Homo sapiens: one gene and its partner. The protein of the gene in region 2 interacts with the protein of the main gene of each other region in a pairwise test. Each region holds a gene or a part of one and is shown on either strand. Other genes may lie near its edges.

What was found. Proteins that work in one complex are often made in the same cells at the same time.
Region 1: the proteins of FMO4 (region 2) and RHBDD2 interact in binary tests that used the Homo sapiens proteins (3 or more experiments, as listed by UniProt).

The regions. Positions count from the first base shown.
Region 1 is NC_000007.14:75,882,034-75,889,070, forward strand, and holds the end of RHBDD2 (rhomboid domain-containing protein 2), read left to right. Parts: coding exon 1-203; intron 204-1,664; coding exon 1,665-1,815; intron 1,816-5,958; coding exon 5,959-6,316; 3' UTR 6,317-6,893; downstream 6,894-7,037.
Region 2 is NC_000001.11:171,309,959-171,317,185, reverse strand, and holds the start of FMO4 (dimethylaniline monooxygenase [N-oxide-forming] 4), read right to left. Parts: upstream 3,004-7,227; 5' UTR 2,773-3,003; intron 1,001-2,772; 5' UTR 859-1,000; intron 1-858. UniProt on the Homo sapiens protein: This protein is involved in the oxidative metabolism of a variety of xenobiotics such as drugs and pesticides.

The DNA of each region.
Region 1 (7,037 bases), on a different chromosome or scaffold from region 2:
AGTGGAGGATGCCAGAGGTTTCACCCCAGTGGCCTTTGCCATGCTGGGAGTCACCACCGTCCGTTCTCGGATGAGGCGGGCCCTGGTGTTTGGCATGGTTGTGCCCTCAGTCCTGGTTCCGTGGCTCCTGCTGGGTGCCTCGTGGCTCATTCCCCAGACCTCTTTCCTCAGTAATGTCTGCGGGCTGTCCATCGGGCTGGCCTGTATCCTTCCTAGCAGAGAGCTATAGAACAACGCATGTCAAAGGGTGAACCAGGCTGGAGGGTCTGGGGTGTCAAGTAGATAAAATTGGGCTTACTTTGTATTTTTTCGAAACAGAGTCTCTGTCACCCAGGCTGGAGTGCAGTGGCAGGATCTCAACTCACTGCAACCTCTGCCTCCTGGGCTCAAGCAATCCTGCCTCAGCCCCCTGAGTAGCTGGGACTACAGGTGTGCACCACTACACCCGGCTAATTTTTATATTTTCTTTTTAGTAGACACAGGGTTTCACCATGTTGCCCAGGCTGGTCTTGAACTCCTGGTCTCAGGTGATCTACCCACCGTGGCCTCCCAAAGTGCTAGGATTACAGGTGTGAGCCACCGTGGCCGAGTCATATCTGATCATAATTTTTTTTTACTTTTTTTTTCATATCTGGTAATTTTTTATTTTATGCTAGACACTGAATGCTGTATTAGGGGCTCTAGATTTTGTTGTTTTCCTTTAAAAAATGTTGACTTTTGTTCTGATAGGCGGTTAACTTACTTGAAGATTGGCTTGAAACTTGAGGTTTGTTTCTAAGCTCTTTTCGGGAGAGTCTAGCATAGCCTTTATTCAAAGGCTGAATCTTTGTGGCTGCCTAATCAGTGGTGGGTGACTTAGGTCAGACGACCAGGATACCACCAAGTTGCTGGGGATGGTGACAGGGTATGGAGGAAGCACAGCCAGAGAGGCCCACATGAAGCTCACATGGTCGCACTGAGGCAGGTGCCCTCTATTTGAGATAAAAGGACGAGGTGTTAGTCCCTCAGGATGATACTGGTACAGCCTCCTGCCTTATCCTGCTACACCAGCAGAGGCATGTCCTGGCTTCTGACTGACTGCAGTGGCTAGAAGGGTGCAAGTGGTGGCACACATGGGTGTAGGAGAAGGGACAGCATTAATACCCCCTGCTGCTGGGCGCATTCATTCCCGGTGAGGCACAGTGAGTAGAAACCTTTGGCTCTGGGGTCAGGCGCAGTGGCTCACGCCTGTAATACTAGCACTTTGGGAGGCTGAGGCAGGCAGATCACGAGGTCAGGAGTTTAAGACCAGCCTAGCCAATATGGTGAAACACTGTCTCTACTGAAAATACAAAAATTAGCTGGGTGTGGTGACGGGCACCTGTAGTCCCAGCTACTCTGGAGGCTGAGGCAGGAGAATGGTGTGATCTGGGAGGCGGAGCTTGCAGTGAGCCAAGATCACACCACTGCACTCCAGCCTGGGCTGCTAGAGTGAGACTCCATCTCAAAAAAAAAAACAAACCTTTGGCTCTGGGTTTCCCCTGAGCTGCAAACTCCAGCCAGAGTGTGCAGCGTGCTAAGCATGAAGGCTTCTGTAGAGTGAGTGGGAACCTGTGTTCTCCCCGGGGAGTGTTCGGCCCTCCTCCCTTTGCTGCCTCCAGTTTCACTTAACACGCCAACCTCAGATGGCCTCACCTACTGCTATTCCATCGACCTCTCAGAGCGAGTGGCACTGAAGCTCGATCAGACCTTCCCCTTCAGCCTGATGAGGAGGATATCCGTGTTCAAGTACGTCTCAGGGTCTTCAGCCGAGAGGAGGGCAGCCCAGAGCCGGAAGTAAGTGACAGAACTCTTAAGTGCTGTTAAATCTTTTTTAAAAAAAAAATTATTTTTTTTTTTTGAGACGGAGTCTCACTCTGTCACCCAGGCTGTAGTGCAGTGGCACAATCTCGGCTCACTGCAACCTCTGCTTCAGGTTCAAGTGATTCTTCTGCCTCAGTCTCCTCAGTGTCTGGGATTACAGGTGCCCACCACTACATCCAGCTAATTTTTTTGTATTTTTAGTAGAGATGGGGTTTCACCATGTTGGCCAGGCTGGTCTCGAACTCCTGACCTTGTGATTTACCTGCCTCGGCCTCCCAAAGTGCTGGGATTACAGGCGTGAGCCACTGCCCCCGGCCAAATGCTGTCAAATCTTATTCTGTTTTTTTATTCTTTTTTTTATTTGAGGACAGGGTCTTGCCCTGTTGCCCAGGCTGGATTGCAGTGGTATGATCATAGCCCGCTACAGCCTCACACTCGTGGACTCAAGTGATCCTCCCACCTCAGCCTCCCAAGTAACTGAGACTACAGGCACATACCATCATGCCTAGCTAACTTAAATTTTTTGTAGGGACAGGGTCTCCACTGTGTTACCAAGGCTGGTCTCAAACTCCTGGTCTCAATCCATCCTTCCTTGATTTCTCAAAGTACTGGGATTACAGGTGTGAGCCACTGAGCCTGGCCTAACCTTATTATTAAAGCAACTCCAGGGCATGCAGAGGGTGTGGCTGGTTTATTGCCGTAAGTGATAAAGAAATGAGGTGCGGCAGATTGGAAAATAATGCACAGATGTCTTCTGAGCATTCTGGATTCTGCACAACTGCTTCTGAAGTAGCAACAGCAGGAAAGGGAAGGCATTTGAGGACACTTAACATGTGATCCTGAGTGACTTGTAGATAGGCTGGGCAGGAGGGCCCCCATCTAATTGACATTAGACACATACCTGCTGCAGGTCAGCCTGGGCTGTGACACACAATAGCCTCGATAAGTGCAGATAGGGCTGGGTGCGATGGCTCACGCCTGTAATCCCAGCACTTTGGGAGGCCAAGGTGGGCAGATCATATAAGGTCAGGAATTTGAGACGAGCCTGGCCAACGTGATGAAACCCCATCTCTGCTAAAAATACAAAAATTATCCAAGCGTGGTGGTGGTTGCCTGTAATCCCAGCTACTCAGGAGGCTGAGGCAGGAGAATCACTCGAACCTGGGAGGTGGAGGTTGCAGTGCACCGAGATCACACCACAGCACTCCAGCCTGGTTGACAGAGCAAGACACTGTCTCCCAAGAAAAAAAAAAAAAAAAAGGTGCAGACAGTCCACACAGCCAACTAGGCTGCTTAGGAGGTGGCCCAGCCCAGGTTTTCTGGTGAGGTTTACTGTTTTCCAGTTGGCTGATTAACTCACAGATGGAAAGTGCTGGTAAGCCGCCAGAGCTTGTGTGGCCTGGCTGCTTCATTTTATAGAGGAGGCCCAAAGAAGACAAGGGTCTTTCTCACCCACTCTGTTTCCAGGTAACAGAGTCAGGAGAGGGGCCATCTGGAAGCACGTCCCCTGCTTAGGAGGCCACCTCCCTCCCTCTCCCCTGTTCCCAGTGCCTCCTGCCTCTGAGTTCTCCGCTGGTTTCTGTCCATGCTGAGACCTCACAGTGTAGGATTTTTTCTTTCCTTCAGTGGTCCTCCCCCCAAAAAAGGAGCTCGCTGGGAAAGGCGTGTTCATCCATTTTGTATTGCTATAAAGAAATACCTGAGCCTGGGTCATTTATAAGAAAAGAGGTTTATTTGGCTCATGGCTTCGTAGGCTACACTAGGATCATGGCACCGGCCTCAGGCAGCTTCCAATCATAGGGCAAGGGGAGGCGGCACCACACATTGAGAGAGGGAGGGAGGTGCTGGGCTCTTAAACACCCAGCTCTTACCTAAACTCAGAGGGAGAACTCATTACTACGGGGAAGAAGCCAAGCCACTCACGCAAGGTCTGCCCCCGTGACCCAGACGCCTCCCACTGAGCTCCACCTCTAGTGCTGGAACACTGGGAATCACGTTTCTTTTTTTTTGAAATGGAGTCTCACTCTGTGGCCCAGGCTGGAGTGCAGTGGCGTGATCTCAGCTCACTGCAACCTCCACCTCCTGGGTTCAAGTGATTCTCCTGTCTCAGCCTCCCAAGTACTTGGAATTATAGGCGCGTGCCACTATACCCGGCTAAAGATCCATTTCAGCACATGATTTGGAGCAGAGGAAACATCCAAAGTGTATCAGAAGGCAAGGTGCTTGGTCCTTGGCCCTTTTTGGCCCGCCACCAGCTGTGGAGTAAATTTTCCCCTGCACGCTGGCCTGGATGTGGGGTTTTTGTTGAATAGGAAGCTGCCCTTAGAGCTTCTTCCAAGAGGTGCTCCCAGCTGTCAACAGCTCAGAGCCCTTGGACTATTTTTCTAAAAGGCCAGGAGGGCTGCTGGGAAAACAGAAATGCGGACTCACCGCATTATTGCTTCAGGCAAGTAATTCCTGGGGTCTCAATGTGGGGGAGACTGTACATTTAGGACTAGGTGTTTTGTGGGTTTTAGTTGTTCTCATTGAATCTGGAGAACTGTCTGTCACCAAGGAATCCCCTCTGTAATAGCTGATGGTGGTCTCCAGCTGTATCTCACATACAAGAGCTCACTCTCCAAGACTGGCCCTGATGAGAAAGTTCTTCCATGCTGAAGGGCCGGGCGCGGTGGCTCACACCTGTAATCCCAGCACTTTGGGAGGCTGATGCGGGTGGATCACGAGATCAGGAGATCGAGACCATCCTGGCTAACACGGTGAAACCCCATCTCTACTAAAAATACAAAAAATTGGCCATGTGCGGTGGTGGGCACCTGTAGTCCCAGCTACTCGGGAGGCTGAGCCAGGAGAATGGTGTGAACCTGGGAGGTGGAGCTTGCAGTGAGCCGAGATCGCGCCACTGCACTCCAGCCTGGGCAAAAGAGCGAGACTCCGTCTCAAAAAAAAAAAAAAAGAGTTCTTCCATGCTGAATTGCAATCAGCCTCACAGACACTGCCACACCCAGTGCCAGGTCTGATCCTGCCTCACTGTGACAGGCAGATCTTAGGGTTTAAGAGGAAGATGGTGTTCCTTCTGTGTTCCCCACGTGACATGGAGTCCAGTCCCTCAGGTCTGGTGCCTGCTGCAGACACTCAGAATATTGTGTTTCAGGCAGCCTGACAGTGGGTCCAGGGCCATGTCATGACACGCATGTTTATTTTGTCAGCAAGATGGCCGTTTGGACAGCTTGTCTCCTCAGAGGCTCTTGTTGATAGATAATTTTTTTTTTTTTTTTTTTTTTACACATGGTCTTGCTCTGTTGCCTAGGCTGGAGTGCAGTGGCACAGTCATAACTCACTGCAGCCTCAAACTTCTGGGTTTAAGCAGTCCTCCTACCTCAGCCTCTTAAGTACCTGGGACTAGAAGCATATGCCACCAGACCTGGCTAATTAAAAAAAAAAAAAAACAATTTTTTTTTTTGAGACAGAGTCTTGCTCTGTCACCCAGGCTGGAGTGCAGTGGCACAATCTTGGCTCACTGCAACCTCTGCCTCCCAGGTTCAAGCGATTCTCCTGCCTCAGCCTTCTGAGTAGCTGGGACTACAGGCGCCTGCCACCACACCTGGCTAATTTTTTTTTTTTAATTTTTAGTAGAGACCGGGTTTCATCATGTTGGCCAGGCTAGTCTCGAACTCCTGACCTCAGATGATCCACCCGCCTTGGCCTCCCAAAGTGCTGGGATTGCAGGTGTGAGCCACCATGCCCAGCCTGAATCCGTTCTCTTTGGGCAGAATTGTCGAGCCAGCCACACAGGCACTGGCAGCTGTGACCTGGTCCCAACGCTCCATCTGGTTTAGAAGCTGCTGTGAGCAGGTCACCCCTCCGGTGGTCTCAGTGGCAGGTCCAGTGTCCTTTCATACAACTCCCTTGCTGCAGGACTGCAACTGGCCCCACCCTCCCTGGGCATCTGTGGTCTGATTGGTTGAGGTTAACCTTTCTCCCACTTGGTACTTAGAGCAAGTCACAGAAAACATCCAAGGCATGTTGTACTAGAAAGCGGGGGCAACCTCAAGCACAAGATGCCATGACCTTGCCAAGACTCGCTGAAGGACCATTTTCTCTCTTGTTCCATTCCAGACTGAACCCGGTGCCTGGCTCCTACCCCACACAGAGCTGCCACCCTCACCTGTCCCCAAGCCACCCTGTGTCCCAGACGCAGCACGCCAGTGGTCAGAAGCTGGCCTCCTGGCCCTCCTGCACCCCCGGGCACATGCCCACCTTGCCTCCGTACCAGCCTGCCTCCGGCCTGTGCTATGTGCAGAACCACTTTGGTCCAAACCCCACCTCCTCCAGTGTCTACCCAGCTTCTGCGGGCACCTCCCTGGGCATCCAGCCCCCCACGCCTGTGAACAGCCCTGGCACGGTGTATTCTGGGGCCTTGGGCACACCAGGGGCTGCAGGCTCCAAGGAGTCCTCCAGGGTCCCCATGCCCTGAGAGAATTTCTAGGGAAGTCATCTCACTTGGCCTTCTGAAGGTCCTCCCTAAGAGTCTCCTGACAAAAGTTACTTATTGAACACCTCTATGTGCCAGGCTCTGTGTTGGGTACTTTGATCAATGCCCCTGTTTCAGTCTCATCTGTACTCACGGCAGCCCTGTGGAGTACGGTGTACTGGCCCAGCTTACAGATGCAGAAAGCGAGACGTTCTGCCATCAGATAAAGTCACGTGGCTCTTTAGTAACACGGACAAGGCTCCTCGCCAAGGAACTCGTGGCAGAAGAGGGCAGCAGTTGGCAGTAGCTGCCGATGTCTGTCCCCAGCTCCACCATTCCTCCCTGTGGCTGTGCCGTGCTCGTGGTTTCAGTGTCCGTGTGTCCATGTGTCTGCCCTTCAGGAGCTCGCAGCTGGTGTGCTTGGCGGTCCCAGGCCTGTGTAGTGTCTCTCCCCTGCTGCGGGCGCCCCCACCCCGATTCCTCTCCCCAGAAGCGGTGGGATGGGCCCCCATGAACTGCAGCAGCATGCTGAGGTGTCCATGTTGTCTGCCTTTGTATAAAGAAACAGCCTCTGACCTGCCGTGCTGGCGTGTGCTTCCTTTGTGGTCTGGCTGGGGAAGAGGGAGTGCGCTGAGATCTGGGCAGTGGCAATGTGTGGTGTGGCGGCAGAGAGGAGAGATGCACCAGGGCCAGGTCAGGCAGGTGACCAGGGCCCAGTGGGTCA
Region 2 (7,227 bases):
CAGCATAATCATTTGAAACAACTTAAGACTACACTGCTATTAAGAGGCAGAGTTTGCACTGAGTATGGATTTCAGGATCTGAAACCAAGATGTGAACATGCTGTTGGTCTGAGAGCCTGAGGTATCCTGTGGTTCCCGTCACTAAGCCTCTTCCTTCATCTTTGCTCAGGTTTGCTGCTGCACCTTTGGGATGGGCTTGGAGTTTTTCTCTATGGCTCTGTAGCTTGTCTCTTAATCAGATCAGAAGCCCCAGGCACAAAATCTAAGAGAATTTACTGACTGGAGGGAGTAAAGAAAGACTCCTGAGTCCTCCAGGAACCCTTAGACTTACCTGACCCTAAGGCAGATTCATGAACTTGCAATGAGGATCAGAAGGATTTCCTAGGGCTGCCAATTTCTGAATGTATTTGCTGCCTTGCCTTTGTAAGGCTGAGATTGCCATACCTGGCTTCATTATGTATTAAAAAATGCATCATTTTTCCTCTTAGACTTTTTATTTGGGAGTCCCTATTTAGTTGAGAGAGCTATATGGAATGCAATGAAAATGGATTTTGGAGGCAGCAGAGTTGGGTTTGAACTTTCTCTGCTACCAACTAGCCATATGACCCTGAGCAACCGACTGAAGCAACCTTAGATATATTATTTGTAAAATAATAAAAATATCTATGTTGAAGGATTGTTTGCATTTTAAAAAACTTGATATTACTTACACAAAAAAGTGCCTTGCACAAAATATTTACTCAGTGTTCATTCTCTACCTCCCTACTTGTCTCCTGTCTTCCTTCTCTTCTCCTTGGAAAAGACAGTTCATACAGATAAAATGTATCAACAAGTTTGGAAAGGAGTAGGCAGACATACCTGTGTTTTCCTTTGAGTTGAGGAGTAGGAGGTTTAGACAGCTTCTAATCAGAAACAAATGGCCTCCACCAATAAGAATACTTGAATTTCCAGGCCACTAGGTAGAGGCCTGGGGCTGGCAGATCTTTGCTGTGCTCTATCTCTGCAATCATAAGGTAAAAAGAAATGACTGCTAACTGAATTGCCAAAGTGAAAAATATACTGACGTGAATAGACTGGAAGCAAATTAATTCATTCAACAAATATGCCCTGGGTACCTCTAAGTGCAGGTCCTAAGCTAAGTATGGGGCCCTGAAGATAATGAAGACCCTGCAACTAAGAAATAGTAGTAAAGTCTTAGAATTTAAAAAAGACCGTGACTGCTCTTAAGATGTTGTATATGGAGAGGCTGATACTACCTTGTGCTAAGTCCTATGGTAGCAGCATGCTCTAGGCATGAATGCTTGCACTCTCCTGGCCTGTTTATTATCCCTGTCTAGAGACCTAGTTAGTGACACAGAGTGGCCTGTGGGGTTAAAAACGTGCTGGGCAAAAGCACTTTAAGGACTGACTTAGAGACTCTACAGGCAGTAGAAACAAATTGGGAATTAGCACCTTTTAAAATTAATCCGTATTTACAGACTATAAATTTCTGAATGGGAGCAACCTTTTTAAATTTTGCCTTGAGTCAGTAGAGGAAGGTAGTGAGTGAACTGGAAATTGAGAGATCTGAGTTCTAGTTCTGCTTCTGCCTCTAAGCAGCTTGTAACCCTGGACACAATTCTCAATTTCTCTGAGCCAGTGCTTCCACATTTGTAAAACAGAGGGTTCAAGTGGCTTTCTCTTTGTTTCCTTCAAGCTTGAAAGGACTGTTCTTATGTCTGAAAACCAAGTAATTGGTGCACAAAAAAAAAAAGATATGAATTCAAAGGTAGGCGAGAATACTGCAGGCTTGAAGGATTGGGAGAACGTGTGTGCAAACTCTGCAAACTATAAAGTGGACTTCATAAGGTACTTGGTTGCTCAAAGGTGCTTATATTTATTTATTTATTTATTTGAGTTGGAGTCTCACTCTGTCTTCCAGGCTGGAATGCAGTGGCACAATTTCGGCTCACTGCAACCTCCACCTCCTGGGTTCAAGTGATTCTCCTGCCTCAGCCTCCTGAGTAGCTGAGACTACAGGCAGGCGGCACCACGCCTGGATAATTTTTGTATTTTTAGTAGAGACGGGGTTTCACCATGTTGGTCAGGCTGGTCTCAAACTCCTGATCTCAAGTGGTCTGCCCTCCTCGGCTTTCCAAAGTGCTGGGATTACAGGCGTGAGCCACCGTGCCAGCCATAGGTTGCTTATATTTAGTCCCTTGGCAGAAAGGAGACCTGACCTATTGAACTAGACCTTTGTACAACGGGAAAACCCCACCCTATACCTGACTGACCAGCAAATGTAGGAATCCTTTATGAGACATGGAGAGACTTGGGTGATTTGCAAATCATGTAATCAATTATGATTTCTTTGAATTTGAAATTTGATCATTTTATGTTTCTTATCATCATCCTACCATGCTCTTGCTTTGTTACAGTATTTTTTTCCCACGCCATCTATGGGGTATTTGTTTCCCAATGGCTGGCATTTCCATCTCATTCATAAGATGAAATCAGAGGTCACTGGAGTCACTGAAAGTCTCATGATTCTGTTTATCTCACTGACACTTTCCTTTTGGATGGTTCTGTCCACAACATAACTTTGTTTCCTTACAACTTCCCTTTGCTTCCTGACTCTCTCCTTAATTCTCTTGCTTTAGCCCTAGTCAAGAGACCCCAAAAGAAGATAATCACATTCATTCTTAAGGAACACACTCCAAGAAAAACATTCATCTTTTGTGAAAGCAGTTTCTGGATCATTTCCCCATTAAAAAAAAAATCCAGGACACTTACCTTGGTTAGCATAGAGCAGATTCTTTGACTTAAATTATTTCTCAAAGTCAAGGAAAGTGTTTGTCTTTTTTTTTTAAAAAAGCTCAAAACCCAAATTCTTTTTTCTGAAAGAAAAATAAATGGAAAGATGACTTTTGTAAAAGTGCCCTCAGTTTAAAACAAAAGCCATTCGTCTTTTCTGTTATGCTAGTGACAGCAGAAAGTATACAGACTAAGGAAAAAAAGTTGTGTAAGAGGCAAGCGTGATACTTCCGTGATCTTAAGGGAGGGCGGAATGGTGAGTTAGAATACAGCTGTTGGATTGGCAGAACATAAACGCTTCCTGCCCCTTTACCCCACCCTCCTCAACGTCATAGTTCTGGCAAAGCCCTAAAGCTATGGGAAGCACATGATAGCGTCGCTTTTGCCATTATAGTCTGTAGAGGGCGCCAAATCACCCCAAATTACAGCTTTCTCAGCGAAACAGGAGTTCTACTTTTGGAAACAAACTTCTACACCCTGACTCTTGCTTGGATTACCATAGGAGCTGTCCAAAGGAGAAAGTTATTTAGATGACCATTACCTCATCAAGTTCTTTCATGCTTGGAGTTCTCCAACCCCAGAAATGTGATTTTAAAGTTCAGGACTTACAAGGAATTTAAGCTGTTTTGTCCTTCAGATTGGATCAGCAGAGGGAGCTGGTGAAATGTGTTTGAGAAAGCATAAAGCTATTTTTAGATATTAACCTAGGGCACAAGAAAGGTAATAATTATAGAAGCTGTGGCAGAAATAGAAAACTTAACTGTTTTTCCTTCCACTGTGTGCTTGTAAGATAATATAACAGACCATCTTTAGGACTTGTGTTTAGGGACATTTTCCAACATGGTTCACTGAACAATTTCTAAACCACATTTGCTTGTGACTACACATGCAAATGCCTACAGGAGTGAGGAGGGTAACATACACGAGGAAAGTGGGCCAGATATGATCTGACTGGAAAGTACTTTCTCTGTCTATTCAGTTCAGCTAAATGTTGCTATTTGAGAAAATGAGCCCAATATGGCAAGGCCTTAGGTTCTTTTCAGTAAAAGCTGCAAATACAGATTTTAATATAAAATCTTCTGTTGGCAGCAAATATTTTCTTTTGAAAAATATCATGGAATATTATGCAGCCATAAAAAGAAATAAGATCATGTCCTTTGCAGGGACATGGATGAAGCTGGAAGCCATCATCCTCAGCAAACTAACACAGGAACAGAAAACCAAACACTGCATGTTCTCACTCATAAGTGGGAGTTGAACAATGAGAACACATGGACACAGAGAGGGGAATGTTGTAGGGCCTGTTGTAGGGTAGGGGGTGAGGAGAGGGAACTTAGAGGAGAACAGGTCAATAGGTGCAGCAAATCACCATGGCACACGTGTACCTATGCAACAAACCTGCACGTTCTGCACATGCATCCCACTTTTTTTTAGAAGAAATAAAGAAAAAAATTTAAAAAAAGAAAAAAAAATATTGTGTCCAGAGTTAGTTCCTTCCGGTGGGTTCCTGGTCTCCCTGACTTCAAGAATGGAGCTGCGGACCTTTGTGGTGAGTGTTACAGTTCTTAAAAGATGGCACAGACCCAAAGAGTGAGCAGCAGCAAGATTTATTGTGAAGAGCGAAAGAACAAAGCTTCCACAGAGTGGAAGGGGACCCGAGCCAGTTGCTGCCGCTGGCTGGGGTGGCCAGCTTTCTCTTATTTGTCCCCTCCCATGTCCTGTTTCTGTCTTATCAGAATGCCCTTTTCTCAATTCTCCCCACGATTGGTTACTTTTAGAATCCTGCTGATTGATCCATTTTACAGAGCGCTGATTGGTCCATTTTACAGAGCACTGATTGGTCCATTTTACAGAGAACTGATTGGTGCATTTTACAAACTTCTTGCTAGCTACAGAGCACTGATTGGTGCATTTTACAATCCTCTTGTAAGACAGAAAAGTTCTCCAAGTCTCTACTCGACCCAGGAAGTCCAGCTGGCTTCACCTCTCAATACCCCCTTTAAACAGGACACCCCAACTGCTTTTGAGAATTGCGCAATGACTGCTCTAGCTACTTCCTGCTGGATAGGGGTGAAGAAGAGACCCTGAATTGTAGTATCCTCCAGAGGGAAACTCTCTAGGTATCAAAGGGCCAGTGGGTCGATCCAGGGGGTCCTTGGTAGAAGTTGTTAGTTGAGCTCATTTGGGGTTTAATTTGCAAAACCATCTGTAGCTTGATGGCCTCGATCCTGGAGGAAACAAATTGACAAAGAGCTTAAAAATACAGGGCCCGAAGGCAAGTAATAGCAAGATGGTTGTCATGAGACCTAGAAAGGGGAGAAGCCATGTTGCCCAACTCCAGAGAATGGTATAAGAATTTGAAAGGCATTGTCTGATTTCAGAAGACTTTTCCTGTAAATGCCGGGTGGCGTCTCATATTAACCCTGACTGGTTAGTGTAAAAGCAACACTCGTCCCCTAAGAAGGTGCAAAGTCCTCCTTTCTCAGCAGTGAGGAGGTTAGGCCTCAGTGGTTTTAGAGAGTCACTGCTGCCAAAGAGTCTATTTGGGATTGTAGAGTAAGGATAGATTTTGTTCTTTCTTGCAAACTGCCTGAGAAATGCTTTGAGAGTGTGTGGTAGTAGGATAATGAAGTGGATAAATCTGCTATTCCGGTTCCTGTAGCAGTGGCCATTCCTAACCCTATAAGTAGGGGTATTAGTTGTATGGCCCTGTGCTGATGGACTTGTGCTTTGAGGAGCACTGATAGGGTCTGGGCAATGTTTATATTGGGACTTAGGAAGACTAAGGTGCAGGTGCCTGTCCAGTTGGTGGGGAGGCAGATATAGGTTGACATTCCATGTAAGAAGAATACGTCTTGGCTGGGTAGACAGAACTGGTTGTGTACGTTAAAAAGGTGTGTGAGTTTGTTGTTTTCATTTTCCCATACTCCTAGAGTACGTGCCAAGGTGGCTCCGGTGAGTGGCTGGAAAGGGGTGTTGGGAGCAAACTGAGTGGCTCCCTGTGCTCTATCTTCCCATTGGGGGAAAAAGCCGTTTTGTATCTACTAGGAACCATTCAATAGATTAATTGAAAGAGGGGATGAGGAGGCATTCACTAGTGGTGGGGGCACTGCTGCAGGGGGTCCAGGGGTGAATGGTCATGCAGGGAGTATGTTTGCTATTAAAAAACCCAGACTGTTTGTTAAGCAGGGAGGAGGTGATGATTTTTGGAGGCTCTGAGAAGTGGACAAGCCATCTGAGTGGAGCTGTTTGGGTGACTCGGAAGTTACTATAATCAGTTCGGGCTTGAAGTTGTAGGATGTAATTACACTGATGGGATAATAGGTCCCCCAGGGGCAGGCCTGATAACGGGTTGTGTTGGATGCATAGAGGGGCTTGGAAAGTTAAGATGGTATTCATGGTTATAGGGATTTGCCTTCTCAACCTTCCCTAAGGATTGTGGCCTCCAGGCGCAGTGGAGGTAATATGATATCCCTAGCACCCTGGAAATTCCCTGTTACCGTGGCTTTAAAAGCCAGACCATTGTCACTTTGTAAGCTTTGGGGAAGCCCAAATCTAGGAATTATTTCATGCATTAGGACTTTAACCACTTCCTGAGCCTTCTCTGTCTTGCAGGGGAAGGCTTCTATCCAATTTGTAAAGGTTTCAACACAGACCAACAAGTGTTGAAATCCCTTAGACTTAGGCATATGGGTGAAGTCTAACTGCCAGTCCTCTCTGGGATTGTGCCCTATTCTTTGTTCCCCCAGAGGGGCCTTATGATGGACCAAGGGATTATTCCTTTGGCACACCTCACAGGCTTTGACTACTTGTTGGATGGTCCAGAGGAGATTTGGACCCGTAAATAGAGATTTAGCCATTTGATGAGTGTTCTCAATACCCATATGAAAAGTTTGGTGGAGGGTCTTAAGTATTTTCCACTGTCTGGCTTCAGGTATGAGTACCTTTCCCTCTTCCGTAGTGAACCACCCTGAGGGGAGAAAACTATGCCCCCGTGAAAGTCCCCATTCTGTTTAAGTTGGGAAATACTGGGGCTTAATCTCTTGGAGAGGGTTGTTCCATACCAGTGGCCCTTCTACAGGTATTTCTAATGGTAGGTTCCACCTGGCAGCAATTTTGGCCTCAGCATCTGCCCGACAGTTTCCTTCTGCCTTTTCTCCTTCACCTTTTTGATGGCTTTGGCAGTGTAAGACTGCCATCTCCTTAGGTTTTTGCACCACATGCAATAACTTAATGATTTCCTTGTGGTATTTAATGGGGGTTCACCCAGAGGTTATGAACTCCCTTTCTTCCCACATTGCAGCATGGGCATGTAGGATTAGATAAGCATATTTGCTATTTGTATACACATTTATTCTTTTTCCCTTTCCCAGTTCTAAGGCTTGGGTAAGTGCCACTAGTTCTGCTAACAGTGCTGGTCCCTGGAGGAAGATG